Regions from separate parts of the Homo sapiens genome. Here all the other regions are linked to region 4. Evidence: fine-mapped expression QTL. A gene starts in region 4. Each other region holds a variant in brackets. All regions are shown on one strand. Distances are between the middles of the regions.

Region 1 (6,330 bases), 200 kb after region 4:
GTCAAGCTTCTTGGGTTCAAATCTTAGCTCTTCTACTTATTAATCATATGATATTGGGCAAGTTTCTGAACCTCTGTATGCCTGTGCTTTCCCATCTGTTAAATTAGAAAGATAATAGCATCTATCTGACATGGTTTATAAGGATTGAATGAGCTATTAGGTTGGTCCAAAGGCAATTACTTTTAATGGCAGGAACTGCAAATGCCTTTGCATCAACCTAATAAGTATATTACACTTAGAAAAGTTACTGACGCATAGTAAAAATGCTTCATGCGACTTAGTTATTAGTCACTATCATTATTCTTAGTATTAGGGATACTAAGATGAGTATGATAGAGTCTGTCCTCAAAGAACTTACAGTCTAATGGAGGAAAAATAGAGAAGTAAAAAAGAAAAATATGAATTATGATGATAAAGAAATAAGATTTTTAAAAACATCTCATGATTTCTATATGATGATGATGAAAAAATTCCTTGAGAAATAACCAAATATCAGTTGTTGTTATTATTTATATACAAATGGATCTTATCTTTTCTATTAGTGTGTTTATGTGTTTATTTGTTAAGAGTTATAGGTACAGGGATCTAGCAGTGAACAAGGCTAAAGCCAAACTCCTTTTTTTTTTTTTTTTTTTTTTTTTGGAGACAGAGTCTTGCTCTGTCGCTGAGGCTGGAGTGCAGTGGTGCAATCTCGGCTCACTGCAACCTCTGCTTCCCGGGTTCAAGCAATTCTCCTGCCTCAGCCTCCTGAGTAGCTGGGATTACAGGTGCATGCCACCATGTCCAGCTAATTTTTGTATTTTTAGTAGAGACGGGGTTTCACCATGTTGGCCAGGCTGATCTCGAACTCCTGAGCTCGTGATCCATCTGCCTCAGCCTCCCAAAGTGCTGGGTATAGGCGTGAGCCACCGCTTCCAGCCTAAAGCCAAATTTTAAGCTTATTTCAATGTTCTCACTGCTTAAGGGATTTTGAGACAGTCTTTGGAATAGCCTTCAAACCTGTGTGAACGGTTAATCATTTTCTCTCATTGTCATTCTGCATCTAATTCTTGCTTGGTTCAAACAGTGAAGATTCCCCATCACTGAGGATGTTCAAAAGAATCTATCATGATTAACTCCAAGTGTGGTTTTCATTCCTCCAACATGCCAGGTCTTGTCATAACTGCTCCTTCTGTTTGGTCATCCTGCTTCTCCTGGTTAAGTCCTGCTCAGCCTTTGAGACCAGAGTCATATGTCACATCCTCAAGAGTAGCCTTTCCTGATTACCCAGACAGACGTTATGGTTCTGCTCTCTGTGTACCACAATTTGGCCGACATCTTTTATGGTCTTCACTATGTCATATTTTTAGCAATTTTTCTGTTTGAATTACTGGCTTCCATAATAGACTCTGAGCTTCCTGAGCATAGAAAACATCTCTGTTTCCCTTTGCTTTCACAGCACCTAGCATAGTGTCTGACCTATCTCATAATCATTCCATAAATGTTTGTTGAGTGAATGAGTAAGTTTCAGAAATATTTATAACATGGCAACATGGACATTTACTTTGTAAAGGATATTACTCTGTTGGATGTACAAATACTGAAATATTTGTTTAGAAATCAGAAAGATTATTTTATAGTCACACTTTATATATAATCCTTTAGCATTACATGAGTCATATATTACATTAAAATTTGAGCCTCCACATCACACACTCACACACACATGAGCTATAATGTCTATTAGCAGAACTTAAAAATCTTTATTCAGAGAACTTTTTGCACTTTGCACCAATTATATCATGAGATGATAATCAGACAGCAGAGTATTTGTTTGAAAAAAACAGATTTTAAGTGTATTAACATGTGAGATTCTTTTTTTGTTCAACTCCTAATGATTCCTTTGCCATACTTTAGTAAATTTTGATAAACAGAAAAGCCATTCATTATTTTACATAATTTTTATTAGTTTTCTTTGATATGTATATTTTTTAGTTGAAGAGATGGGTTAGACTATTTTAAGATATTACTAATCTTAAGCCATTGTCAATCAGAAATCAACCTCATCATTTAAACTATCCAGACAGCTGTAAAGCCATAAGTAGCATTTGAGAATAGCAATTCATAGATCAAACAAAAAAGGCATTATAATAGTTCTTAAGAAGAGTTACATTTTGAGTTAAGTGATACATATCTAGAGGATGAAATGAAATAGATTTATGTGACTTGGGCACTTGCTGAGTGCAGTGTACCTGCTTCTACCCCAAATAAAGAGAATCAAGGTGACACTTTTCATCCTCGTATCTGCCTGTTACACAGAAAATACAGGCACCTTCTAATAACTAAACGTTGTCTTATACTTTTCTTTAAATGTATTGCAACACACTTAAATCCTTTTGGTTTAAAATAGCACAACTCTTGCCTCCTCCTACAAGCTACATTTAATTAAGGAGGCTTTTTAAAAAGCCAACAGACTTTTAAAAAAAATGCTAGCATATATAATTTTTGGCAGAAACTATATAGCTAAATGGAGAGTGTTTCAAAATTTGATCTGCTTTGTGCTATATTTTCACCCATCTTAATTTTCATGGAATCAAGAAATTAAGACCTGAAAGGATTCTAGAAATCAATTAGTTATTTCATAAGAGGAAAAAACTAAGGCCTGTAAGTGACCCATGGTTGCAGCAGGTGAGATGGCAGGACTAGAACACATACCTTCTAAGGGCCACTGATTTCTCTCCTTTGTGTCAAATTTTCCCACAGAAATCTTCTACTTATTAGGAATTCATCTGATTGTCTCAAACTTGAGATCAAGATCTTCCTGGTGCCAAAAGTAAATTTTTTTAAAACTTTCCAATTTTCTTTCCTTTTTGAAGACAGAAAGGTTCCCTCAAGTTTATAAAGAATCTAGAAAATGAAACTAGAGTCTTTTTTCAGGTCTTCCTAGAAGAATGGATCATTGGGCTCCTCAGTCCCTTTGTGCTGCTATAACAAAGTACTTGAGACTGGGTGATTTATAAAGAACAGAAATTTATTTCTCACAGTTCTGAAGGGTCAAGACACTGGCAAGTTCAGAGGGTCTGGTTTCTGCTTCCGAGATGGCAGGTGCCTTGTTGCTGGATCCTCTGAAGGGGACGAACTCTGTGTTCTTACATGGCAGAAGGTGGAAGGGCAAAAGGCTTAGCTAGTTGCCTCTTTATTTATTTATTTATTGAGATGGAGTTTGGCTTTCATCACTCAGGCTGCAGTGCAGTGGCGTGATCTCGGCTCACTGCAACCTCTGCCTCCCAGGTTCAAGCGATTCTCCTGCCTCAGCCTCCCAAGTAGCTGGGATTACAGGCATGTACCA[C/T]CATGCCCGGCTAATTTTTTGTATTTTTAGTAGAGATGGGGTTTCTCCATGTTGGTCAGGGTGGTCTTGAACTCCTGAACTCAGGTGATCTGCCTGCCTTGGCCTCCCAAAGTGCTCTGATTATAGGTGTGAGTCACTGTGCCCGGCCAACATTTTATTTTAATTAGTAGATAATATTGCAAAATCAATCAAGGTTATGTTGAACTGACATCTAAATTTCATTTGTGAGCTTTGCAAAGACTTAAGTCCCTAGGGAGAATTCAGAGGCAGAGAGAAAGTTTTTAGTGAGAGTATGGCACATTCTATCTGACATTTTTATACAGTACCAAAAATATCCTGGTTAGAGATTTTGCAAAAGGAAGGTGAAGCTTCCTTTTAAAACATAAACTTTCTTAGTAAAAATATCCATTGTATTTCACAAATTCTGAGATGCAGTGTTTCCCATTTCAACATCTCTGAAATTGGGGTGTATCTTACAATTGTTGATGGGTTATAGTTTAGTTGGCAATTTTTTTAGTGTTACATAAAATACTGTATTTCATAACCGATAGCATCATAGATTTGATAAATCAGTGGGTTTAAAATATGCTCTTTGGGTTACATGGAGTCCAAATATGTGCATTTATTGATAAACCTAGTATGTTGAACTTGTTTTCTCCCAGTTTCCCCTTTTGGAATTGTACATGCGGCTTAAAAGTTACTAGTGGCATAGATGGCAGGGGTTTTATAATTTTGTTTTTTACATGCAGCTGCAGGTTTATGATCTGTAGAGGCCACTGTGTGCTGCTTCAGAGGTCCTTGTGGTGTTGTGTTTAAACTGACACCAGAAATTATGTAAAACCAAACAGTTTGAGTCTCCTTTTCTCTTGCATGGAAGAATATACTTTAGAGTTAGTCCCGTGGCTTTCATACTGGATCATGCATATGAAAAACTAGATTATGGGAGATGGCCGTAGCCCTGATCTGTCCAATCACAATCTGACCACTCTTTAGATATCATAGTGTTGCTGGATGGTGGTGACTTCACCTAAACCAGATTTTCAGCGCTGATAGTCCCAGTGTGTGCTGCTGCAGCATGAGGTGGACGGTGTGTCACCAGGCTCCATGCCACATAAGCAAGAGCACTGGCAGGTACTGATGTTCTCTGTGATAACCTCTTCCTGTGGGACTGGCTTCTCAGAACTAACCCAGGAAATTACCCAGAGTGACACAAGAAGCACTACTGACACCTCGTGGAGTCAGCAATATTAAGCTTTCTAATGTTTTTGCATCTGATCTGCATTTTGTTTGACAGCAATCTCAGAACTCAAACTTAATCTGCCCTTAAACAAATCTCTTAACCACTCTCCCTCCCTGTAGATAAAAGGATAAAAAACCTGGTTACTAGCGTGTATCTCCACAGTGGCTGTGGTAACTCATATGTCCCTTTACTTTTTGTTGGATTTCCCACTCAAGTCTCAATTTTGAGATGAAATTGGAGACTTTTTTTTTTAACCTTTAGCATAATTCTCTAGCTGCTGCCCTTGACAATAGTGACTATTTTTAACATCTGAAAGCATTGTAAACCAGTGGTTGTACTTCATTGATTGCAACTTTATAAGTAGAATTTTTAACATTATATTAAAAAGAAATAAAAAATAATAACATTTAGGAAATCATACTACATAGAGATAGTTTATCTGTTCATGATTTCTCTGGGAATGAGGATGGCAGGAGAAAATTAGGTCTTTGCCATATGAGGCCTTTGTGAAAAATAATACATTTTGGACCAAGTGGTATGAAGAAACACTCTTCTACCAGCTATCTGTATGTGTTTTGAATTGATTGTAATGATACATTTAAAGTAAATGTTCTTTTGCTTTTAATGGCTAAAGTCATTGAGCCAAGAGCAAGGGGGAATTGTTTCTGCTCCTTCTGCCCCTTTGTAGGATATTGATTGTTCCTCCTGTGAATTAAAGTCAAAATATGTTTAACCATTTCTGATTAGTATCAATTAATTAACAAATCTGTTAAACCACTTACTTTTTGGACATTTAATCTTATTAAAAAGTAAGCCTTATTACATAAAAAAAAGTTTTGAGTCATGTAAGGTTATTTGATGTTAATTTACAGTTAGGCAGGAGTGGCTTTCAGAGTAAGATGACCATATAATTTTGCCATCTGTTCACCCAATTTTAACAGAAAAAAATTATTTTAAGAGAAGGCAATTAAGTGGCAAATATGGCAAGTTTCGGTTGTTGTAGAATGCATTCAAAATTATAGGAACTTGGAGACCTCTCATGTTTTTTATATGGAAAACATTTTCTCCTCCTTTCTTACTTCTCATAAAGTGGGCCAGATGGAGAACATATCCCCAGGACAGATCATTGATGAACCCATCCGACCAGTCAACATTCCCAGGAAAGAAAAGGATTTCCAAGGGATGCTGGAATACAAGAAGGAGGATGAGCAAAAACTTGTTAAGAACCTGATTCTGGGCAAGTATTTTCTGCATTGGATAAAAGTTCCTTCTGGCACATGGGTTAATGGTGGGAAAAACTAGTCACTAATTTTTGAGATATTCAGCGTAGGTTTCATTAGTCATCATCAGATACCATGTATTCTAGTGCTGCAGTAGTGTTCTGACCACACCAAGCACTTTCAGTCCAACTGCAGGGACACATGCCTCAGACCCACCTACAAGGATTGCTCAAGATCAGGTCTTCTCAGCCCTGGCTGCACATTAGAATCACCTGGAAGCTTTGAACCATACTGATGTATCTCTCTCCCTCTTGCCCAGTTAAATCAAAATCTCTAGAGAGAAGAGCCTGGCAATGTCTAGTACTTTAAAAAAAAAAAAAAGAAAAAGAAAAAACCCTCAAGGCCAGCCTCGGGAAAATAGCAAGACCGCATCTCTCCAAAAAAAAAAAAAAAAAAAAAAAAAATTACCCAGGCGAGGTGGTACATGCCTGTAGTCCTAGCTGCTCAAAAGGCTGAGATGGGAGGATCATGTAAGCCCAGGA
Region 2 (6,330 bases), 120 kb before region 4:
TTAATTCTCAAAAACAGTGATTTCTTTTTTGTTTTTGCCTCTTTATAAGGAATAGCAAATAGAAGTGCTAGTATTTACTAGATGCAGTGATTGCTACAGTTGGTTTTAAGTAAAACAGATTGTTTTTGATTATTTTGAAATCAGGCAATAATATATAATGCTGTTTACAGTTCTTTAAAAAATATGTAACTTAAAAACTCAGATTGGGAAGGGGTAACAATCTGAGTTTTTCTTTTTCTCTAAGTGTTCTGTGAAAATCTTTTTTTAAGTCGTTCCTACTTCAGGTATTATCACAAATGTTTGATTTCTATATGTATGCCTTAAGTGATATATGACACATTTTTTTCCTTGACTCTTCCTTGCGGAAATTTCATTACTTGTTCATAGTTTGAATCTAAGAAATATTTGCTTTTCATAGTCAGCAGGGCCAAAACTTTGGTCTTGACAACTTTTTGTCAGGCATTTTCACATATCGACAGTGTTTTTGCATAAACTGTATTGCTTTTGCAAGTATATAGTAAATTTTTTTCTTAATCTTCAGATGTTATAGTATCAAAAATTCAAAGACCTAAGTTTTAAAAATGTAATTGTTTGCAGTATTACTTGAATCTATTATATAATCCTTTGTGATGAGGCTCAGTTATAAAAGTGACAGCATGAGGACTATTGAGAAACTGGAAATATCTTTCTGTTCTTTCTTCACTGGATTCCTCAGTTTTACTCACTGAAAGACTTCTGGACATCATAGGACTTGAAGAGAAGGTTTATAATAAGCCCAGGAACAGTAAAATTATAAATTTGAGGAAGTAGTCAAGATAGAGTATAAAAAGTAATCAGCCCCTAAGGCTCATACATGGATGGGCCTCAGATTTTGCTATAAGCTTCCTGTCATCTGTCATATGAGAGGGATGCTGTGTGAATCAGTTATGTATATTCCTGTTCTTTAACATTGCTAAATTTTTACCATTAAAATTTATGTTGGTTTCTGTTTTCTTAATATTTTGAAGGTGTTTTGTTTTTTGAGGTTCAAATTTTGGGTGGTGGGTACAAACATACAGTTAGAAGAAATCGTTCTGTCATTCAATAATATGATAGGAAATTATAGTTAATAATTATTGTATATTTCAAAATACCTAGAAGAGAAGAATTGTAATGTTCCCAGCACAAAGAAAATATAAATGTTTGTGGTGATGGATATTCCAGTTACCCTGATTTGATCATTACACATCATATACATGTGTTAAAATATCACATGTACCCCCAAAAATACATACAACTGTGGTATATCAATAAATAAAAAGGAAAAACAATTTTGGGTGGATTGCCTGTATAATTTATTATTTAGCTGTGTAATATTGGGCATAGTTTCACCTTCTGGGCCTTAGTATCCCCCTCGGTATCATGAGATTTTAGGATGATTGTGGGATTTAAATGAAAGAATGTGCGAAACTACTTAGATTCATTACTACTTATTAATTAGCTATTATAATAAAATGTGAGATTGTATTATAACTTTCCTTTAAAGTTATTCTACGTTAAAAACGTGAATATGTTGAGTTTTCTCAGTATTTTGAGAATTTTAAGCATAGTTTTTTAGACCTTTCCCTAAGATACACTTCTAGGTTTCTCAGTTTCCTAAGGTACTTCATTAACTGGAAAGCCATGGAGATATGGGGATTGGGGCAGAAAAAGAAGACAGGGTTCATGGGTAAGTGCATGGCTAAATATCTGAAGAAAGATAATAGTCAATAGTGGTAAGGAAAGAATGAGTAAAATGAGAAGAGACATAGAAGGCAAAAGAAACATTTGTTCTGTTTGTAGTGTTTTGATAACATATTCATACAGTTTGATTCTTGTAGTGTTATTGTTTCTGTTGTGTGTGTATGTACACTCGTGTGTACTGACACCCCCAGATTTCCCCCACCCCTTTGACCCCTGCAAATGCTGAGCTGATTGACTAGAGTTGCTAAATCCCTTGGTGATTTATTTACTGGGAAGTAACTTTATTCTGACTTTTCTTTTGAATTCCTCAGCTAGAACTGAGCTAAAGGTGACATTGTAATTGCCTTCCATATTAATGACAAGGGACAAGCCAGCTGCCTGGAAGGCAGAAATTAAATATCATCACAGATACGAGTGTAATTGTCTTGAAATATTAAAATTTAAGACTAAAAATCTAATGGTTTTGTGAAAACTCAAACTTCAAAGCCAAAATGCTCTTTTGTCATTTTCATAAGTACACAAAACTTCAGCTTCTTTCAACTGACCACAGTATTTTCATTGCTTTGAGCTGACATATGTTATTTTGGGAGAGAGGTTTAATCTGGTTTCCATTCTATTTTTCATATTTTGATCAAGGGTAAAATTTTTGTGATTTTTTTTTTTTTACATAAACTAATTTAGCCCTCCAATTTGCTGGAAGGTGCAGGTTAGCTTAATGAAAGAGAACACACAAATGTAAAACAAAACAAAAGTATTTTCCAAGTATACTCCATTTTATCACTGTCATTGAGTCCAGTAATATTAACCAATTAGCTTCTGCATTGGGCCCAGAGACTACTTACAGTTGACAAAAGGGGAGGAGAACCCTTTTAAAAATAGGTATCCTAATTTTAAATGACTACATTGCATTGGTGTATATGTTTTTGGGTAATGCATACTTACCTTAAATCGCTTCTCTCAAAAATATCCATGTAGAAACAGAATGATTGCTGTACGTCAGCATCTTCTACTGACCCTTTTGAGAATGTGCTGAATGCTATCAACCCCCTTGCTAGGGGGAAAAACACATCTATATTTATGTACACATAATTTTGTGGAAAATACCAAAGAGGATCATAAATTACCTTAGGTTAAGAACTTTTTTTAACATAATTTGTTTATAGTCAGAGTATGAAAGCATTAATATTTAAAAATTGAGGCTTAAAACAGACTGGATGCAACTTTCAGAATATGTATGCAAGCAAAGTGTCACATGGTTTTTTTCCCCCACTTCAAGGGATATGGTAAAATGTTCCCATATGTGCTCCATACATTAGTACCCTTGTAGATGGGTTTGCCCTGGACAGTACCCAGTATCCCTTTGTGGACTCCTACGTTCTAGATGGGCTTCAAATAGAAAACCTAGCACAAAAGGACCAGCCTGGAATGCGGTGTTCAGGTCTTCAGAACCTACAGGCCACATCTCTGAGTTGTAGACTGAGATTAGAGAAGACCTAATGACACCTCCTTTGGCCTTAGACTGCCACCCGGAATCTCTTCCAGAAATCATTCTGCACAAGAAATGACAGGTCCACTGCTATGAATGTCACCCAGTTCTATCTTTGTTCAAGAGAATCAAGCAGAACTGATCTGTGTGTGCCCAAGTTTCTCACCTCTTAATTAAAAAGACCTGTCTTCCGTCCACTTTTTATTTCTCCAGGAGTTTTAGATTTCACACATAGACGCATTCAGTGGGAAATAGGATGTTGAGAGTACTAGAAGTAGGGGTCATTCATATGGTTGGGAGAAGGATGTTGAAAGGACAGAATGTATTTTGGGAAACCAGCCT[A/G]TGTTGTAACCATTTTCCCATGAGGTAAAAATGTAAGACTAAACTAGGTTAAGTTTAAGGATAATTTTGGAAAGTCATGTGCCATTTGTGTAGGATTAATGAAGCTGGGGGAAAAAAACAGCACTGGGATAGTGGATTGTTGCCTTTTTAACACAGAATATTCTTATGAGAGTACAGGTAAATCTAGAATTTGGTTTTGAGAGGCAGGAGTTTGTTTCCTTTTGTTACAATGTTTTCTCAGATCTTTGTCTCAGAGTTCTTTCTGTATGAGGTGTGGAGTGATAACACCATATAATCAGGAATATTCCCACAAAGAATAGTGAAAAGGACAATATTTTCTACTTGAGAGTCTTCAGGCCCTGAGACTATGATGAATTGTGTCTGATGGTTTACACAGAGCACAGAGAAATGAAATTGAATAGGATTAGTGCAGGTAAGACAGAAATGAATTGAGGAAACCAGTAAGTTTTCTCGATAACACTGACTAGTTCTAAGTCATACATTTTAGATATCATACCCACTGGGAGCTTTCTCTGATGTCCAAGATTGAGTTCCCTCCTAAATATTCCCATAGCACCTTGATCTACTCCTATTTTATTTATCTTTTAAAAAATTATTTATTTATTTATTTATTTGAGATGGAGTCTTGCTTTGTCGCCCAGGCTGGAGCGCAGTGGCATAGCGTGATCTTGGCTCACTTCAGCCTCCGCCTCCCAGGTTCAAGCAATCCTACCGCCTCAGCCTCCCAAGTAGCTGGGATTACAAGCATGTGCCTCCATGCCCAGCTAATTTTTGTATTTTTGGTAGAGATGGGGTTTCACCATGTTCGCCAGGCTGGCCTCGAACTCTTGACATCAAGTGATGTGCCTGCCTCGGCCTCCCAGAGTTCTGGGATTACAGGCATGAGCCACTGCGCCTGACCTCATTTATCACATTACCATGAATTAGGCTTATCTGTGTTCTCTCCATACGACTGCCCCCTACTAGAAGTTAGCAACAGTAGCTTATTCTCCCATTGCCTCTGGAGAAGAGCTGAATCTCAGACAGTTTTTAACACATAAATATCAAATACTTCTTTTTTCTACTCTTCTAGCCTTTCAAATTACTTAGAATTTAGTTTTCTTTGTATAGTTTGAGTTGCCCTCAGCTGCTCACATAAGCATTCAATAGGTTGCTGTGATCAATCTATAATCCTTTAAATGACTGTTGAGGCCTAGAAATTCTAGTAATCAATACAGAAATTAGAACTCAAAGTGTTCTCCCCTTTTATTTTTTATTTTTGACAATTTTTGCCCTTGATGTAGAGATTTAGTGATTGCCTAATCATTTTAAACAAATGTTTCCTTATCTCATTGAAGAGAATTACATTGATAATATAGAAAAACAATTGGCAATTAAAATATGAAATCCAAGAGAAGAATAAAGTAATAGTTATCTGGGAAGGGTAACAATTAGCTTTCATCACTTTAACCAGAAATAAGCTGAAACTAAGAAAACAAAATACAGTGAAACATTAAACATCCATTTGAGTGCCTACCTGTTCATGTCGAGCACTGTGCTAAGCAATAGTAGTTGGTCTTAATTCTCATAAAGCTCAAATAATGACTTAATTTTATTTGTGCTAAATTCTAAGAAGGAAAAGTATAAGATGTCATAGGCTCTTCTAACAATGATAAAAAGACATGAAAGAGGGTAATAGGATCAGATGAGATGGATGTAATGAAGAATTATGTATGTAAGCTGAAACAGAGATCATCTGATTGTTTCTTACCCTAATTTTTTAATCTGAAGAATCTGATGAAGAGGTAAAGTTAAATTTTTCCTCCATAAGAATAGAAATTAAGTTAGAAAATGTAGGCCAGGCGCAGTGACTCATGACTGAAATCCTAGCACTTTGGGAGGCCGAGGTTGGAGGATTGCTTGAGGCCAGGAGTTCAAAACCAGCCTGGCAACATAGAAAGACCATCTTTCCAAAAATTAAAAAAAAAAAAGCCTTTCACAAAAGCAACAAACATCTAATTTTTGAATAAACTTAACAGATATATTCAGGAACTTTATAAAGATTTTAAAACTCTACCAAATAATATTTTTAAAGACTTTCATATATGGTGAGATTTAAACCTTTAAAATACAGGGTTTTTTTGTTTTTTTTTGTTTGTTTGTTTTGAGACTGAATCTCCCTCTGTCGCCCAGGCTGGAGTGCAGTGGCGTGATCTCGGCTCACTGCAACCTCCGCCTCCCGGGTTCAAGTGATTCTCCCGCCTCAGCCTCCTGAGAAGCTGGGATTACAGGCACACGCCACCACACCCAGCTAATTTTTGTATTTTCAGTAGAGACGGGTTTTGCCATGTTGGTCAAGCTGGTCTCAAATTCCTGACCTTGTGATCCGCCTGCCTCGGCCTCTCAAAGTGTTGGGATTACAGGCGTGAGCCACTGCGCCCGGCTAAAATACAGTTTTTAAAAAGTTAGTTCCAAAAAAAAAAAAAAAGAGTTCAAGGCCAGGTACTGTGGCTCACACCTGTAAGTCCAGCACTTTGTGAGGCAGGAGGATCACTTGAGCCCAGGAGTTCAAGACCAGTCTGGGCAACATAGTGAGATGCTGTCGCTACAAAAAAAAAAAAAAGCCAGGTGAGGTGGTGCATGCCTGTGGTCCCAGCTACTCAGGAGGCTGAGGCGGGAGGATCCCTTGAGTACAGGAGTTCAGGGCTGCAGTGAGGTATGATTGTGCCACTGTACTCCAGCCTGGGCTACAGAGCAAGATGCTGGGTCAGTTTTTTTAA
Region 3 (6,330 bases), 150 kb after region 4:
TGGCCAAAGAGCACAAGAAAACAGTGGGGCATCAGGTGAGTTCAGGGAGCTGCCGCTGCCACGCTCCTTCCTTTCTGGCTCATCTGAAACCTCAGATCTTCCCTCTTCAGCCTCCCAGGTGGGATCCTCAGGTGAGGAGAGCCTAGAGCTTTCACTGTGAGATCATACGACACCATCCACTAAAACTCTTCTCCACCCAGTTTTAGACCTGTGACTCTGCATAAGCCTTTCCCGAAATAATTTTCTCTACAGCTTAATTCTCTCGTGCATATCGTCTCTCAGACCACCCCATCTTTGCTTAGTTTTCTGTTTGTTTTGTCTCTATATTTGTACAGTGCCTCGGTCAGCTCCTTCAGAACAGGGCCCTCGCCTTTCTTTGATGTCTTATGTTCTCTGAGAGTGGGAAATGTTACATACATGCTTAGTGCCTGAACAGGGAGTAGGGCTTTGAATGGAGGCTGAGCGCTCCTCAGCTTGCTGTCCTGTGCATGGGACCCTGTGCCTGGTGTAGACAGAAACAGGGCCTGACCCAGGTCCACAGCCTCCAGTCCTGATCCTAGGTCCCTAATTTTAACTCCTCTCTGCCTATCCTTTGTCATTCTCTCATTCATTACCTATACTCTTTTAAGTCATCTGCTACGTTTTCCAGTATCTTCCATCAAAATTCCCACTTTATGTGATTAAATAGCCTTAAAGCAAGGTTATATTGTTAGTTACATATGACTAAGCTCATAACAGGTTTCTGTAGCTTCCTGTGGGGAAAAGGAGTGGGAGTATAGGAATCTATATTTAGCAGAGTAAGCATGAAAATGGTAGAATTTAGGCAAATTTTAACCAAAAGCCCTAGCATTCTTGTTTTGTGGCAGCTCCTCTTCTGAAGATGGGTCAAGTTTATAAGTGGCAAAGTTTTCTCCATTAGTGTCATAGGAAGGGAATTTCCCATTGTTTTACCTCACCTTTGACTTTGGACAAAGCCTTGATACCCTCTTCTGCCCTTTTTCATGCAGTTCAGAAACTCCCTGCACCTGCTTATGGAGACACTCAATGCCACTACCCCTCACTATGTGCGCTGTATCAAGCCTAATGACTTCAAGTTCCCATTCACGTAAGTATTTCTGAACCACCCAGTGAAAAAGTACATATCTTATAAGAAGTGCCAAACCAGCCAAGCAAACTAATATTTTCCTTACATTTTTATAAGGAAAAAAATATTTGGGTAAGTCTTCATGCCTTGTAGAGGGAAACCACTAGTCAGTAGATTATTTTTTCAGTTTTTGTCCCTTTTGAGAATGTGAGAGTAAATTAGCAGCCATCTGAAGATTTGAAAACTTGAGGTCAACCAAGCATTCTGGTTCTGTTTTCTGTTTTGAATTTACTTCAATTGATCTCTCTGGGATTTTTGTTCATTTGGGCATTAGGTGGAACCAGCACTGGCTGGGATAAGGCTGTTTGGCGAATGCTTACCTGCTGCTTCTCCACTGCTGAAATCATCAGAGGGTGTCTGTTTTCACCAGCACCTCCTCCTGCTTCAGATACCATGCATGAAGGGAGAATCAATTTTTCTGGAGTTTTTTTTACAAAACAGAAATATTTTTCTAATTTTATGTATGTATTTATTTATTTTGAGATAGAGTTTCACTCTTCTTGCCCTGGCTGGAGTGCAATAACGCGATCTCGGCTTACCGCAACCTCTGCCTCCCAGGTTCAAGTGATTCTCCTGCCTCAGCCTCCCGAGTAGCTGGGATTACAGGCATGCACCATCATGCCCAACTAATTTTCTATTTTTAGTAGAGACAGGGTTTCATCATCTTGGCCAGGCTGGTCTTGAACTCCTGACTTCGTGATCCGTCCCCACTCGGCCTCCCAGTGGGATTACAGGCGCGAGCCACCATGCCCAGCCTATTTTTCTAATTTTAAAAGTAATACATGTACATTGTAAAGACAGTTTTCAGGAAATACAGAATAGTATAAAAATAAATGAAAAAGCATCCGTCAGCCGGGTGCAGTGGCTCACACCTGTAATCCCAGCACTTGGGAGGCCAGGGTGGGTGGATCACCTGAGGTCAGGAGCTTGAGACCAACCTGGCCAACATGGTCAAACCCTGTCTCTACTAAAAGTACAAAAATTAGCCGGGTGTAGTGGCGGGCGCCTGTAATCCCAGCTACTCGGGAGGCTGAGGCAGGAGAATCACTTGAACCTGGGAGGCTGCAGTTGCAGTGAGCCGAGATCACTCCACTGCACTCTAGCCTGCGGGACAAGAGTGAGACTTCGTCTCAAAAAAAGAAAAAAGGAAAAGAAAAAGCATCCATCATACCCAGAGAGATAACTGGTATTAACTGTCATACATTGTTCTTGATTAACCACCTTCCCTTCCCTCCATGCTCCGTGTGTGTGTGTGTGTGTGTGTGTGTGAGAGAGAGAGAGAGAGAGACACAAAAGGAGGGGCCTTGTGCTATGATTGCTGTTTAGTCTTTACTTTTAACTTGACAGATTGTGAACACTTTCCCTTTTGGTAAGTAAAAAGTCACATAATCATATAATGGCTACAGAGTATCCCATTGTGTAGACATAGTATATTTATTTAAATTAGTTCCTACTGATGGCCATTTAAGTTGTTCCAACAATGCTATAATAAACATCCTGTGCCAAACATTTTTGTATATTTGTCTGATTATCTCATTGGGATAATGTGACTCTAGAAGTGGAATTTATAGGTCAAAGACCAGGCACACTTAACAAAGGTTGTAATAGCTCCCACCCCTCACCCCCTCCACAGTGTATGAGTGCCCTTTTCCCTACCCCCGTGCCAGTCCTGCTGTCTGGAGATTCTGCCTTAGACTGGAGCACAGTTCTGAAGGACTGCTGTCTTTCTCTCTGCTTCATCACCAAGAAGTCCTTTCTGGAAGAAGTGGGAAGCAGGAAGAAGCTGCTACACTTTGGCCTCTGTCCTGGACAGCCCTCAGGACCATGACCTTTTATCAACCAACCCGCTCTTCCACCACCAACAGACACCTGAGAAGATAGCACAGGGGAGGCCCGGATGGATCGCTCAGAACTTAACTATGGGAGTCACAGGAGCAATCATTTGGCCGAAGGGAAACCTTTCTACTTCCTCTTCAGTGCCAGTTTAACTTGAAGATGTCATTTGCCTAGAGTAAAATAAATACAAAATGTAATACAAAACAAAAATCTTGTTCATTGATGTAGACACTATGTTTAGAACAGTAGTAATTTTTAAAAAAATATAACCGTATGGGGCATATTTAATTTGTGCTTCCTGTTAGAGAAATCTCCAGGGTTGACCAGTCTTTATTCCAGGGGAGCTCTGTATACTGAGCTAATGACTTCTGAGAGCTTCTTGTCAGGCCATGCCATGAAATGAGTATGGGCAAAGTGCAAAGGAGTGCTGTGTTGTTGCTGTTGTTTTTTAGACGGAGTCTCGCCCTGTCACCCAGGCTGGAATGCAATGGCGTGGTCTCGGCTCACTGCAACCTCTGCCTCCCGGGTTCAAGCGATTCTCCTGCCTCAGCCTCTGGAGTAGCTGGGATTACAGGCGCCTGCCACCATGCCTGGCTAATTTTTGTATTTTTTGTAGAGACGGGGTTTCACCATGTTGGCCAGGCTGGTCTCAAACTGCTGACCTCGT[G/A]ATCCGCCTGCCCTTGGCCTCCTAAAGTGCTGGGATTACAGGCGTGAGCCACTGCGCCCAGCCATGTTGTGTTGTTTTAAATGTGCTCAGTGGACTTTCTTTTTGTTGTTGTTGAGACAAAATCTCATTCTGTCACCCAGGCTGGAGTGCAGTGGTGCGATCTTGGCTCACTGCAACCTCTACCTCCCAGGTTCAAGTGATTCTCCTGCCTCAGCCTCCCAAGTAGCTGGGATTACAGGTGTATGCCACCATGCTCGGCTAATTTTTCTGTTTTTAGTAGAGACGGGGTTTCACCATGTTGGCCAGACTGGTCTTGAACTCCTGACCTCAGGTGATCTACCCTCCTGGGCCTCCCAAAATTCTGGGATTATAGGTGTGAGCTACCTCGCCCAGCACACTCTTATGAGTTTGTGGTTTGAGTTGCAGGTAATGTTTACAGCTCTTTATTTTTACTGCTTATCATCTCCTCCCCATTCTCTCATAGTTTTCCATTTTGATCACTGCTCCGACTTCTGAAAGCTTTCTTTTCTGATTTATCCATTTTGCTCTTACGAAAGAATTTACACCCTGACTGAGGAGAGTAATTTGTGGCCACCAGCCAGGTTCTTTGTGGACTAACAGCTTTGATTTTTATTTGTAGGTTTGATGAGAAGAGGGCAGTGCAGCAGCTGAGAGCATGTGGTGTCCTGGAAACCATCCGAATCAGTGCGGCCGGTTTCCCCTCACGGTGAGCCTGGCATTTTTCAGATGTAAGGGATCCTAATGGGAGAAGATCCTAGTTCTTTAAGTAAACTCAGATGGTTTTCTTTTAATAGGTGGACTTACCAAGAATTTTTCAGCCGCTACCGTGTCCTAATGAAGCAGAAAGATGTGCTGAGTGACAGAAAGCAAACATGCAAGAATGTGTTAGAGAAACTGATACTGGTGAGAATGATTTCGCTTACCGTCATCTGAGCAGAAGGCCTTGTGGTTCTGACCTTGGAAAGCCCCGGGAACTTTTGTATAACATTTTACTAGTCCAGATCATTTCGGGGTGGGATCAGAGAGGGGCACACTACTGTGTTTAGGATGCTGGAACTAGCGAGGATGATAGTCCACCGTCAGGAGGCAGAGCTGTGAGGCCTGGACCCACATTTGAAACACATTCTTCTTAGACAGCTTGATTATTATTGATAAAAGTGTACCTAGTACTTACATCTAGAAGACACCAGGCCAAATGCTGTGTGATTAAGAAAAAATAAAGCTTGTTCTCAGGTAATATAGTCTTACTTGGAAAGTAATACTTTTTAAAGACGAGTATAATATTTAACTGTAGTGTCTATATCAAATGCTGAATGAATGGAACAAGAAATCAGGGGATGACAAAGCGACGTCCAGCTATGGGAAGGAGAGATTTCATCAAAGAGGTGTGTTTTGAGTCAGGCCCTGAGAATGGGTAAGGTTATGCAAAAATGGAAGGAGACTATTATAAGAGGGAGTAAGAGCAGGGTAAGCATAGGGTTTGCTCAGAAAACAGTTTTTTGCAGTGTGAGATTTGTGTATGGGACAGTAGAGAAATGGTTAGGAAATGTAGGTTGGTGTTACAGAGAGTCTTGCAGACCAGGCTAAAGAGTTCTCCAACTTTACTGTGACCTGGAATGCTTGTTAAAATACAGATTGCTGGGCCCCGCCATCAGAATTTCTGATTCAGTAGGTCTGAGGTTGGGCCCAAGAATTTGTATTTCCCGGGTGATGCCGATGCTGTCTGAGGACTATATTTTGAGAACTACTGATCTTGGTCTTAGAGAATTAAAGATTCATGAAAAGTTTTTAAAATAATATTTTCACTTGGTTAACACTATCCTAGATGGAGTACCTCACTTTGAGCTAATTGATCATAATTACTAGCTGTGAACTAAATGTGATGCCTTTTTTTTGTTAATAATATTTTTTCCTTGAAAGAGCTAAGGCCACTTCCTCAGCAATGCTTTTTTTTTTTTTTTAACTGGGGCTTTTTGAGTTTGCCCCAATTCCCTTCTTTTTTTTTTTTTTTTGAGACAGTCTTGCTCTTTCACCCAGGCTGGAGTACAGTGGCATCTCGGCTCACTGCAACCTCCGCCTCGTGGGTTCAAGCCATTCTCCTACCTCAGCCCCCCCAGTAGCTGGGATTATAGGTGCACACCACCACACCCAGCTAATTTTTGTATTTTTAGTAGAAACAGGGTTTTACCATGTTGGCCAGGCTGGTCTTGAACTCCTGACCTCGTGATCTGCCCGCCTCGGCCTCCCAAAGTGCTGGGATTACAGGTGTGAGCCACTGCGCCCAGCCTGCCCAATCCCCTTCTAACCTGTGTTCAGGTGGGAATGTAGAGCAGAAAGTAGGAACAGGCCTATTCCTGGTCCTCTCACCCAGGCCATTTCAGGCCTGGATCAGGGCTTTGTGGGAATTTAGTTAGGCAGAGGAGGCTGAAAGATGGAGGCAGGGTTGGTGTGAGGTGTGAAGCGGGATGCGGGTAAGGACCACTTTTCTAGCTAGGTTTCCAATGTAAACTTTATTGATTTAAATTGAAATAATTGTAGATTTTTTAGATATATGTGGATGTGTCAGATTTTTTGGTTTCATATATGAGATAATATGAGATATCTACTCATAGGGAAAAATGATTTTCTCTGTTTTCCCTTAGACTTTCAGATCACATGGCCA
Region 4 (6,330 bases):
CTCACTAGTGACAGGGTGCTTGGGACTATGAACGCATACATGGAAGTGAGCGGAGGCCACCCCTCGGGGCTTCCCTTTGCTGCTTCTGGCTTTTTACTCTGCTTTTTTTCTGAACAAAGTAAAGTAAGGTCAAGAATACAGAACCCGGCCAGGCGTGGTGGCTCATTCTTGTAATCTCAGAACTTTGGGAGGCTGAGGCGGGCGGATAGCCTGAGGTCAGGAGTTTGAGGCCAGCCTGGACAACATGGTGAAACCCCGTCTCTACTAAAAATACAAAAATTAGCTGAGCGTGGTGGTGGACACCTGTAATCCTAGCTACTCAGGAGGCTGAGGCATGAGAATTGCTTGAACCTGGGAGGCAGAGGTTGCAATGGGCCGAGATTGTGCCACTGGACTCCAGCCTAGGCAAGAGAACAAGACTCAGTATCAATCAATCAATAAATAAAAATACAAAACTCTTCTCCTCCTCATCTCCATTACCTTCCTCTTAGTATGGCCCCAAATATTTGAGTGGTTGAATGCATGCGTTCTGGACTTATAAGAGGATAATTCCCCTTTCTGTTTTCTCCTCATCACTTGAAAAAAATAGAAAACGAAGAAAGCATTCACACCTACAAGAACTCGTCCAGTTTTTTAGTTTTTTTTTTTTTCTCAGTATACTCAGCATTTCTCGACAGTCCTGAGAGGTAGGTATTATTTGAAGGTGAGAAAACAGGCAGAGTGGTTACCACCTTGCACACGACATGAAGAAACTGCAAGGCGTAGGAGCCAGGCCTCCTAAATCTCAGTCCAGTGCTCCTTCCGTTCCGCTGGTCGTCACTGCACACGTTTTCTCTTTTTATGTCTGGGTGAAGAAAGAGTGGGTCCCAGAAACATGAAAGCGATTTGGTTTTGCAATGGGAAGGAACAGAGACAAATCTGTAGGACTTTCGACTCAGTAGACATTCCCTCTAGCATTTCTGAGGGGATTGTGGGCGAAGAGGAGAGGTCTGAGTTCCACGGAGTAAGGACTGGCCCCGTTCCTTTCAGTGAATGGTCTTTCTCCAAATACACACGCACACAACACACACAACCGGGGGCCTCAGCCATGAGAGTTGTTCGTGATAGAAATGGTCTACCAGATTACCATGACAGGCACTGGGGACCAGTTGTAGTTCAAAGAAACGAGAGATGAGGGCACTACAAAGAGGCAGGGATTAAACAAACAAAAACAGCAACAACAACAACGACAACAATAAAGAATGAAGATTATTCAACCAGAAACGACAATGAGGGTGGGGAGAAGATAGAGGATGAAGACAGCGCAGGGTTGGGAGTAGAAAGACCACATTCTTGTGCTGGATGTTCAAGGATCACCGTGAGGAGAGTGAGGGCGGCTTTGCCCTTTTGATGTTGAGTTAAACTGTAATACAGATTTTCCATGTAAGTACTCCGTCATTTTCAGGTGGCAACCGGATAAACTTCAGGTGCCACCATGGAGCCGACAATCACCAGCAGCGAACAGGACGGGAAGAAGGCTGGGACAGAAGGGTAGTTGCATCTCCGCAAACGCACAGGTCTAGGAAAGAGGCACCTGGGCTGTCCCCGGGCTATCTCGTTTCAAAGTCACTTAAGTTTCTGTAGCTTAGAAGCGGCCCTTGCCCTCTGGTATCGGGAGACGACTTTGCTGCAGACATCGAGGTGCTCGGAATGACCTTGGTGATCAACCTTAACCTGAAATTCCCGGTCCTGCATTGCCCATCTCCCGGGTCACTGCTGCTGACAAGGCTCTTCTACAGTCCTGGGTTATTCTACAGTCTTTCAAGAGGGCTTCCCCTAAATCCTCTCCCTAGGAATGCTTGGAAGGACGGGAGGAGCAGCCTGGAGGCTCCCATCGTTTATTCGGACACAGTAACAGCCCGTGCCATGGCTGCGCTACCGCGGGAGCTAGGCTCCGCAGCAGAGGGCCCCGGGCTCGCTTCGGGGTGGGGGCGCCCGGGGTGTGCCGCGCCCTCGGGGCTCACGTCCCGGGCGGGTTTCCGGGCCTCGGCAGGGCGCGAGGCGGCGGCGGGGCCGGCTGGCAGGCTGATGATGATGATGCTCTGTGCTCGTAGCCGATGGGAGGCAGCGTGAGCCCGAGAGAGCCCAGAGCAGCCGCGGTGGCAGCGCTGGAGCGCAGCCTCCTCCCGCTCCCATAATGCACAGGGCGGCGGCGGTGGCGGCGGCGGCAGCGGAGGCAGCATCGCGGGCCGCCGAAGTGGCTGCGGCGGCGGCGGCGACCCCTAGGACCCCGGGCAGGTGGAGCGCTCGCGGCTGCTCGCGGCGAGCCCGGGAGTGATGGCGAGGCCCCTGCGGGCGGCCAGCGCCTGAGGCGCCCCGCCCCGCCCCGCCCCGCGCGGCCCTCCCCGCCCGGCCCTGCCCTGCCCTGCTCCCTGCCGGCGGCTGCGGGCGCTTCCTAGTCCGCTCGGGCGGCCGCCCAGGCGAGGTGCGGCCTCCGCACAGGCGGGGGGCGTAGGCGCGCGGGGCCCGCCATGGCTGCGTCGGAGCTCTACACAAAGGTAAGGCACCCCGCGGCCGGCGTCGAGGACTGGGGCTGTGCGGCCCTCGCCGCCAGCTGTCAGGCTGGGGAGGGGGCGGGAGCGCCGGGCCCAGGCGAGCCCCACCAGCGCCATCCCCTTCAGCGCCTCAGAACCCTCGGCCCTACCAGCCGGTCGCCCGCTGCGGCACCTTCCTCTTTCGGGCGAGATGGTGAAGGCGGCGGAAGGTGGCCCGCCTCGGGGGTCTCCCAGGCCCCTGCCGCGCTGCTCGAGCTGGGGGCAGAGCGGGCTTCGGAGTGGAAAGGGGGCCCATGTGGATTTAGCAGGGCGGGCGTGCCTCCCCTCCTGCTTGGCTTTGGAAAATTCCCGGCGGGTGGGAGATGCTTGCTCCAGTAGATCGGATGGGTTCTCTCGTGGGGACACGCGCTTAAAATAACGTCTTGTGTTGGTATGCAGTGCCGCTTCTACCGCCAGCTAGCCTTTCTGTGAGGTTATTTTGAATCCTGCAAACGGTGGCCGTATCACCTTTAGCTCCCCAGTTTAGCTGCGCTGGGGGTGGCGAGCCCCGGGGAAAGATGCTGCCGGATGAACGCGAGCTGATTCACCGGCTGGGAGGGTCGGTACTCATTTATCGCTGGGAGTTTGCAACCTGCGTGTAATCCCGCAGAGCCTTGTTAGGCTCCATGTCTTTACCATCCTCTGGGGCAAGCCTTTCCCTTCTGGGTTTGGTTTAAGGGAAGTGGCAGTCTTTTCTTAGACTGACATCAATATACTCAGGGTCTGGCGATCTCTGAATGACATATTATGGAGAACTGTCACTTGAGTGCTGCGCAGATTTGTGATGACCTTTGTGAATATATGTAATCATGGCATTTTATACTGTACACTCATGTGTAGGTAGATATTTTGCCAGATATTGATTACTTCTACATGCAGTTAATAGAGTTGCCTTTTCACATTAGCTTTTGCAACAGAACTTTCATTTAGGGTCCTGTAATCACTGGAATCATTGTTTCCAAATGTCACTGAAGTCCAGGGCCCAAGTTGCAGTGTGTTTTGTAGAGGAAAGAAGACTGGGCATCAAGAGACCTGGATTCAAGCCGGGACTTACTAACTGTGACCTTGGACAAGTCACTTAACATCTCTGGTTCGATTTCCTAATGAGTAAATGCAGTTAATTATACTTGCCTTGCATCCCTTACAAGCTGTTGTGAGAATCAAACTTAATAATCGTTGTGAAAGCTTTTTGTAACCTATGAATTTCTCTGCAAATATGAGATATATGATTAATTTCTTCAACCATGAAATGAGCTTGCATGAAACATTGTCTGAGACCTCTTTCTTTCTAGTTTTAGATTTAACGACTGTACAGTTGGAACTTCTCTCTCAACCTGGTAATTTCTTTAGGCATTGTAGATCTCTAACATATGAACGAATGCAATTGGAAACTGATTAAAAGTAACTTAAACACTTAATATGGTGCTTGCTATGTGCCAGGTACTGTTTTAAGCGTTTTAAAAATATGAACTCATAATCCTCATAAGGAACTTATGAGGTCGATATTAAGAAATATCAAAATCATTTTCACATGAAGAGATAATCAGTCTGTAAACATTCCTTGGTTACTTTGTGTAGCCCATCCCCTCCACTTCTACATCAAGTTTGTCCAACCCGCAGCCCATGGGCCGCATGTGGGCCCAGGACGGCTTTGAATGTGCCCCAACACAAATTCATAAACTTTCTTAAAACATGGGTTGTTGTGTTTTTTTTGCAATTTTTTTTTTAGCTCATCATTTATCATTAGTGTATTTTATGTGTGGCCAAAGAAAATTCTTCTTCCAGTGTGGCCCAGGGAAGCCAAAAGATTGGACACCCTCCGTTCTATATGGTGAGCAGTCATCTTTGAGTCACCTAATAGTAGGCTGCTTAACTAGAGACTGAGTGGATAATAAATTGTTGTTGGATTTCGAATGCTTTTTTCCCCCAGGATAATTTGGGAGAAAAAATTGAAAAGATGTTGTGATTTGTAAATGGTAAAGTTTTGGGCTTCTGTCACAGCTTTATCACAATCTATTTTAAAATTTACCTTTTAACAGCCTGAGGAACATAATGAGACCTGGTCTCTACAAAAAAATTAAAAAGTTAGGCTGGGCACGGTAGCTCACGCCTGTAATCCCAACACGTTGCCGAGGTGGGTGAATCACCTGAGGTCAGGAGTTCGAGACCATCTTGACCAACATGGCAAAACCCCGTCTCTACTAAAAATAGAAAATTAGCTGGGCGTGGTGGCGCATGCCTGTAATCCCAGCTACTCAGGAGGCTGAGGCAGGAGAATCACTTGAACCTGGAAGGCGGAGGTTGCAGTGAACCAAGATCGCGAGCCTGGGCAACAAGAGCGAAACTCTGTCTCAAAAAATAAATAAATAAATAAATAAAAATTAGCTGGGCGAGTTAGTCACGCCTGCGGTCCCAGCTACTCGAGAGCTGAGGCAGGATGATCAGCTGAGGCAGGAAGATTGCTTGAGCCTGGGAGGTTGAGGCTGCAGTGAGCCATGACTGTGCCACTGCACTCCATCCTGGGCAAAACAGCAAGACCGTGTGTTGAAAAAAAATTTTTTTTAACCTCTTTGTCATTATAAAGACAGACTGGCTTAGAGATCAAGACTGAAGTTGGGGCTTACACTGCCTTCTTCTAAATATACTTATGCCTAATTAATAGTCTGGTTACTTGGTTATTTGTTGGCAAATTCTTTTTGTGAATGGGCCTTAGCTTAATGGCAAGCAGAAATACTTATCAGGCATCCTGTGTGCCAGGTACTTTGCTTAATGTTTAGAGGATTTAACAATGAACAAGATACAGTCCTTTCCCTCAACACGCTCATAGTCTGCTTCTTACATTCTTGACCCACTTTGAATCTATAGGGGCATAAATAACCTGCTGTTACCTCAACAGCAGGCAGACAGCTGGTATGATATTTATTAGTAGAAGTTAGGGAATGGGTTGGGACATGGGGAAGGTTGGGCTGATTCCAGAGATAAAAACTACTATTGTAATTACTAGAGGAATAGGAAAATCATTAGAAGTATTATCAGTGGATAAGCACAAGGATCTTCCCCTTGCAGAGGATTATAGGAAGGAAGTTCTAGGATAGATTACAAGGAAAGATGTATTAGTGATATGCCATAATTATGGTATTTAACATTGTGGTTAAATCTGAAAAGTGCTCTTTAAAAAAATGTCATTCAGATCTTAAGGGCAGATTTTAATGTGTGATACAGATCAGTTCCTATTACAGTGAAGGACAAGAGACTGTTCAATTTCTTCTTTTTAGCCAGAATGGTAATGGTTTTGTCACAGCAATTTAACAAGGCTTCCATTTTGTAAGTTTTTCCAGCAGTATAAACATTTTAAGGACAATAGCTAGGTTCTTGGGATACTTGTCTGGAAACGAATATTTTGGTTAAAACATGTTTTGTTGATTTTTAAAAATAACAGCTTTATTGAGATATGTGTCTTATACCATATAATTCACCATTTAAAGTGTACTATTCAATGGTTTTTGGTTTATTCACAGAGTAGTATGTTGATGTGTTTGTGGTCAACCTGCCTTGCTCCCAAAAGAATTAAAGGAAACTATGATATCTCATTGCTTCTGATTTTGAAAATATTTGCTAGTCTTGACTTGCCAGTGGATATCTATATCATACATCATCCATAGGTGCTTTTGGTAACTAGAAGCAATTCTACATTTGTGGAGTAGGGTTTATCAATTAGACCTAGAAGGATTATCGGGAACATTATAATGAATGGCAT
Region 5 (6,330 bases), 94 kb after region 4:
TATTACTCAGTTTATGGACTGTGTCCCTGGGAAAAAAGTTGTAAAACAAATTTCAGTAACATGTTTGATATATGACATTAGAAATCACTTCCTATGGGAAAAACAGTAACAACCCCACCTTGTACTTATATATTGGTTTATACTTTTCATGAAGTTTCTATGTGCGTAAGCCTTTGCAATAAACTAGAAGACTATTGTTGTCATCCTCATTTTATTGTTGCCTGAAATAAAGGCCAAGGCCCATCTGGTGGCCCTGGGAGTAGAACCCATAGTCTAATTCCATACTCTTTCCTCTGCAAACTGTTTAGATTAAAAGTTTGTATGTGTTGGTAATAATAAGAGAAAATTAAAGCAATTGAGCGAGCTTTTAATCATGCTACTTATATTCAATTTAAAGAGATGCCTTTTATTCTGATCTTCTTTCGATAAGTTCTTACTAAGCACCAGCTCTGTGTCAGGTACTGTTCTAAGTACTGCCTGCTGTGTTGAACAACACAGACACAGAACTTATGTTCTAATGAAGGAAGAGAGATAGTAAATAAGTAAACAAACAAGAACATAACAGCAGGTGATTTCAGATAGTGAATAAGAGTGCTGAAGAATGTAAAATAGAGAATGGTAATAGTAGTTTGGATTGATTTCCGCTAGAAAGGTCTGGGAAGGCCTCTCTGAAGAGGTTTACATTTGAGCTATCATATAAGTGAGAAGGAGGCAGACATAAGCAGATCTGGGAGAAGTACATTATAGAGGGCTTAACAAGAGCCAGGGTCTAGAGACAGGAGCAAACAAAACTGTGTTCCTGAAGAACTAAAATAAGATCTGCATAGTGCCGGCTTAGAGGTTGGCAGGGGAAGGAAAGGACAGGTCATGAAGGCCCTTGTAGAACATGGTAAGGGATTTGTATGTTAACTATGATGGCCAGGCCAGGTGTGGTGGCTCACGCCGTAATCCCAGCACTTTGGGAGGCCAAGGTGGGAGGATCACTCTCTGAGGCTAGGAGTTTGAGACCAGCCTGGCCAACATGGCGAAACCCTGTCTCTACTAAAAATACAACAACAACAAAAAAGTAGCCAGGTGTGGTGGCAGGCACCTGTAATCCCAGCTACTTGGGAGGCTGAGGCAGGAGAATCGCTTGAACCCCAGAAGCGGAGGCTGCAATGAGCCGAGATCATGCCATTGCACTCCAACCTGGGCAACAAGAGGAAAACTCTGTGTCAGAAAAACAGAAAACAAAAAAACTGTGATGGCTATTTGTCCTACTGTTTTCTTGTTAAAATGTCCTTTATTTTGTAAAACGATGGTGATATTAGACAGTAAATTGGTATTTATGTTGCCTCTGCTGAGTGTGAGGGCTTTAGCCTCTACTTGTCTGTAAGTGCTGCCAATAATTAATGGTTTTATAATCTTACTTGTCAAGACTAAAAGTTAGTTAATAACCTTATATCAGTCCCCAAACTTTAAGTAAAAAATTTTACCAGCCATGAAATCTAGTAGTTTGGAAACTATGGCAATATACCACAGCAGCTTCCCAATAGGAAGGCTTGAAAATATTTGTCAGTAAAGAGGTTAACATAGGCTGGGCATGGTGGCTCATGCCTGTAATCCCAGCACCTTGAGAGGCCAAGGCGGGTGGATCATGAGGTCAGGAGATCGAGACCATCCTGGCTAACACGGTGAAACCCTGTCTCTACTAAAAATAGAAAAAAATTAGCTGGGTGTGGTGGCATGTGCCTATAGTCCCAGCTGCTCGGGAGGCCGAGGCAGGAGAATCACTTGAACCCAGGAGGCGGAGGTTGCAGTGAGCCGAGATCGTGCCACTGCACTCCAGCCTGGGTGACAGAGTGACAGAGTGAGACTCCGTCTCAAAAAAAAAAAAAAAAAAAAAGAGGTTAACGTAATATCCAGGACAGTGGCATGGCATGCTGAAATGTTTTTCTTAATTTAAATTATCTTGAATCTCAGATCTACCTGTACTTTCGTTCACCCACTTTCTTTTCGCTTTCTCCTATCTGTAAGTTCATCACTGGGTCATATAAATTTCTCTTGTACTTGGGAATGACCTTGTTACAAGCTTCCAGAACTTTGTGCCCAGTACTTAGAATAGTCATTACATTATCACAGTTCTTTGGGAAGTTGCCCCATATTTAACATACTCAAATCCAAATGCTCCTTCTCAAAGCTCCAAGTAAATTAGTACCCTGATTATTGTTAAAAATGAAATCTAGAGGTGAATTTACATGAAATGAGGATACAGATACAGGCCAGAGACCGGGTTCAGTCTGGCCCATGCCAGCCATGATTGATTGTGTCATGTCTTTCCCTTGCTGGCTGAATCTAGGATTCCTGTTTTCATATGTGATTTGTTCATGAAAATGGGCATTTAGGTTTAGTGTATGTGTGTTTTAAAGGGAAATTTCTTCCCAGAGAGTCCAAGCACATAAAAACACTTCTTCAATGTGGTATTCGAAAGATTTGTGCATGTTAGTATATTTTGTTCTTTTTCTTCAAAATTGACCACATAATCTTCTGGCTTATGTCCAGGGAGTATCTAGTTGAGGCAAAATATTTGCTGCTTTGGGAATCCCTGATGATTACCATGCCTTTTTCATGATGTTGAGGCTACAGGAGCTAAGCTTATTAGTGACTGGCTGTGCCATTTTTACCATTTCCCACTCATCTTTATAAAATAATGAAGGCAAAATGCTGAACAACCGTGTTTCTTCAGTTTTAAAAAATCTGTTATTTTTATTCTCCTCTTCTCCCTACTGTGATGGCTCCTGAAGGATGTCTGAGAAATCACTAAGGCTTTGCAGAGCACAGGATGCAAACCACCATAAAAAAATCCAAATTGTGGGCCGGGCACGGTGGCTCATGACTGTAATCCCAGCACTTTGGGAGGCTGAGGCAGGTGGGTCACGAGGTCAGGGGTTCGAGACCAGCCTGGCCAACATGGTGAAACCCCGTCTCTACTAAAAATACAAAAATTAGCTGGGCACAGTGGCACATGCCTGTAGTCCCAGCTACTCGTGAGGCTGAGGCAGGAGAATCACTTGAACCCGGGAGGCAGAGGTGGCAGTGAGCCGAAATCGTGCCACTGCACTCCAGCCTGGGCAACAGAGCGAGACTGTATCTCAAAAAAAAAAAAAAAAA[AG/G]AAAAAGAAAGAACAAAAAAATCCAAATTGTAAACCCAGCCATAAAAAGATGGCAGTGCTGTTGAAACTGGCAGAACCACAACACCATAGCTTCAAAAATAGATCTTATGTGTACATTTTAACCTAAAATTATACTTTCAGGTGGCATTTACTGTGTAAAGCAAAGTCAAGCTTTGATCATAACTGTTTTTTCAGAGCACACTTTTTATATAATTTGGGAATGGTGGTGCTATGAGAGCTAAAATATTTTTTGTTTACTAATTTAAAAAGTAAATTTCAGCTGGACGTGGTGGCTCACACCTGTAATCCCAGCACTTTGGGAGGCTGAGGCGGGTGGATCACCTGAGGTCAGGAGTTTGGAGACCAGCTTGGCCAATATGGCGAAACTCCATCTTTATTAAAAACAAAAAAATTAGCTGAGTGTGGTGGCAGGCGCCTGTAATTCCAGCTACTCAGGAGGCTGAGGCAGGAGAATTGCTTGAACCCAGGAGGCAGAGGTTGCTGTGAGCTGAGATCATGCCACTGTACTCCAGCCTGGGCAACAAGAGCTTAACTCTGTCTCAAAAAAAAAAAAAAAAAAAAAAAAGTGAATTTCATGTTGGCCAAGATTTCTTTTTTCATAAATTGTTTAATTATAAATAGTTATCATATGTTTATATATGATTGTAAAATAATTGATTTGCTAGTTTAAATTTTTTTCTTTTTGTCTTCTAGTTTGCCAGGGTTTGGATACCTGATCCAGAGGAAGTCTGGAAGTCAGCAGAGCTGCTCAAAGATTATAAGCCAGGAGATAAAGTCCTCCTGCTTCACCTCGAGGAAGGAAAGGTGAGATCTCACTTTCATTTGTTGTCATTGGCATAAAGTGAAGGGAGTTCAAAAGTGTAAATTTACTGTGAAGTAAACTCCCAATGGAAGTTAAATTTTGAACTTACCTAGAATTTTTACTTACTAAATTGGTAAAAATGGCAAACTCAGTTTTCTATCCTGATAGTGTTTTTAATGGCATAGATTAGTGAAAATAGCAGATACTTTAAAAAGCTTCTATTTTGGCCTGTGAATTTATTATGATTATCAGGTTTAGATTCACATCTAATCCTAAAACTCTTGCATTTAACTGGTGTGCTATGGGGAGTGCTTGTAGTGTTTTTAAAAAGAGGCATGGTGCCAGGTCTTAGAGGAGACTCATTGGTGGCAGCATGGAGAGCAAAACTGAGGGGAAGATACTAGTTGGGAGGAAGGCGGGGAAGAATTAGGCCAATTAGGAGGGCTTTTAATACCAAACTAGGGAATTAACTTATTTAACATTTATTGGTCATCTGCTTTGTTAGGCAAAATGTTCGGCACTTTGGAGTGAATTTTCTCACGTTAAATTTCACACCAACCCTATGGGTTGGCAGGTGATATAATCACTATTTTCCAAATAAGAAAGCCAAACTTCAAAGTCATTAAGTAGTTTTGCTCAAGGTCACACAGCCAGGAAGTGGCTTTTGGAATTTGAAGTGAGATTTGAACACAGATGACTCTAAGATGAGTGCTTATACTATTTGACTATATTGGATTTTTGCAGATTGCTGGCCATGACCAGTTGCTTAAGGTGATGTCTGCCATGTTATCCACTGTAAAGTTACTGTTTTCCCTTTGTAATTAATGAATGTCATTGTGTTGGGGCAGATGCTTTGAGGCCACTCATATATCCTGCTTCTCCTTAAACTTTTCCTGCTAATATTTGCCCAGTGTTCATTACTGTGTCTTGCCTGCAGCAAATATCGTTGTGTTCTAGTGGTGATTCTCCATTTCTTTCCTTCCTTCTATACTTATTAACTAGAATTCTTCTATAGGGAAGGAAGTATTGTTTCTCCTCTCCCATTTATTTATTACTTTAATCATTTATTTATTATGGGCTCATGGGTATTTCTTTTATTCTTCATTACTATCATTATTTATTTTATCAATTAAATTGTTCCAGCTTTGGTCATTGAGATCTCTCTTAGATTGGGTCCTTTGACTTTTTTGACAGGTCCCTATCCTTTTTTATTTTTTTTTGAGGCAGGGTCTCACTTTGTCACCCAGGCTAGAGTGCAGTGGCTTGATCATGCCTCCCAGGCTCAGCCTCCCTCCCTAGTGGCTGGAACCACAGGCATGAGCCACCATGCCTGGCTAATTTTTAAATTTTTTTAGTAGAGATGGAGTCTCAATATGTTGCCCAGGCTAGTCTCGAACTCCTGAGCTCAAGCAGTCCTCCCACCTCGGTCTCCTGAAGTGCTGGGATTATAGGCATGAGCCACTGTGCCTGGCTTATTTTTTTTTTTTTTTTTAGATATAGCACTTCTCCTGGTACCCTAAGATACTTACCCTGTATTTCCCCTTTCCCAGCCCTGTTACCTTATATTGGAGGATAGTATTTGACAGCCAAGATCTGAGCACTAGGTGTGCTCATTGCTATTGAGATGACACCACTTCTCAGCCCTCTTAGCATAGAGAGCTAGAAAAATATATACATGGATGGATAGATAGATACTAATATGTATGCATACTATACTAATGTATACTCAACCATCTATACTTACTTTATGTCTATGTTTACATATGTATGTATGTGTTTGTATGTATGTATTTTATATATATAATGTGTTTTTAGAGATGGTTGTCTTGCTATGTTGCCCAGGCTAGTCTTGAACTGCTGGGCTCAAGAAGTCGTTTTACCTCGTCCTCCCAAAGTGCTGGGATTAAAGGCATCAGCTACTGCACTAGACTTTTTTTTTTTTTTTGAGACGGAATTTTGCTCTGTCACCCAGGCTGGAGTATTGTGGTGCAATCTCGGCTCACTGCAGCCTCCACCTCCCGGGTTCAAATGATTCTTGTGCCTCAGCTTCCTGAGTAGCTGGGATTACAGGCGCATGCCACCATGCCTGGCTAATTTTTGTGTTTTTAGTAGAGACAGGATTTTACCATGTTGGCCAGGCGGGTCTCAAACTCCCAACCTCAAGTGATCCACCCACCTCGGCCTCCCAAAGTGCTGGGATTACAGGCATGAGCCACTGCACCCAGCCTTGACTTTTTTTAAAAAAAATAAAACCCGTGAGTTAATAGGGATCCTTTTTTCTCCAGTCCAATGCCACCAGGTTCATTCTATTATTCTTCCTTTGATTATGTGTACTATAACTTCTCTTTTTGGTTTT

Which allele goes with the higher level. Alleles are on the strand shown, and positions count from the first base shown. SD is a standard deviation of normalised expression in the study named. Not every link is listed here.
For the expression in neutrophils of the gene that starts at base 2,437 in region 4, allele A in region 2 goes with a lower level than allele G (large effect, 1.6 SD a copy in BLUEPRINT).
For the expression in subcutaneous fat of the gene that starts at base 2,437 in region 4, AG is the low allele of the variant in region 5 and G is the other (moderate effect, 0.70 SD a copy in TwinsUK).

What was found. PIP is the estimated chance that this variant, and not a neighbour inherited with it, causes the effect.
Region 1: its variant is fine-mapped to the expression of MYO5A in esophagus mucosa (GTEx, PIP 0.96).
Region 2: its variant is fine-mapped to the expression of MYO5A in neutrophils (BLUEPRINT, PIP 0.92).
Region 3: its variant is fine-mapped to the expression of MYO5A in whole blood (TOPMed, PIP above 0.99).
Region 5: its variant is fine-mapped to the expression of MYO5A in subcutaneous fat (TwinsUK, PIP 0.95).

The regions. Positions count from the first base shown.
Region 1 is chr15:52,329,828-52,336,157 of GRCh38, reverse strand. MYO5A (myosin VA) reads left to right here. Exons shown (of 42, transcript NM_001382347.1): 35 at 5,659-5,805. Among named protein-coding and RNA genes, the nearest start is that of MYO5C, 37 kb to the right of the region's middle. RefSeq lists an enhancer at 4,281-4,410. The variant C/T (reference allele first, on the strand shown) is at 3,329.
Region 2 is chr15:52,643,299-52,649,628 of GRCh38, reverse strand. The region is part of intron 2 of ATOSA (atos homolog A); the gene reads left to right. Among named protein-coding and RNA genes, the nearest start is that of ATOSA, 33 kb to the left of the region's middle. The variant A/G (reference allele first, on the strand shown) is at 3,551.
Region 3 is chr15:52,377,866-52,384,195 of GRCh38, reverse strand. It overlaps MYO5A (myosin VA), which reads left to right. Exons shown (of 42, transcript NM_001382347.1): 15 at 1-35; 16 at 1,008-1,105; 17 at 4,288-4,374; 18 at 4,463-4,571. Among named protein-coding and RNA genes, the nearest start is that of MYO5C, 85 kb to the right of the region's middle. RefSeq lists enhancers at 383-612, 653-712, 4,488-4,877. The variant G/A (reference allele first, on the strand shown) is at 3,648.
Region 4 is chr15:52,524,987-52,531,316 of GRCh38, reverse strand. MYO5A (myosin VA) reads left to right here and starts at 2,437. Exons shown (of 42, transcript NM_001382347.1): 1 at 2,437-2,537. The coding sequence starts at 2,511. RefSeq lists a silencer at 1,908-2,787.
Region 5 is chr15:52,430,821-52,437,150 of GRCh38, reverse strand. MYO5A (myosin VA) reads left to right here. Exons shown (of 42, transcript NM_001382347.1): 2 at 3,866-3,976. Among named protein-coding and RNA genes, the nearest start is that of MYO5A, 95 kb to the left of the region's middle. The variant AG/G (reference allele first, on the strand shown) is at 3,151.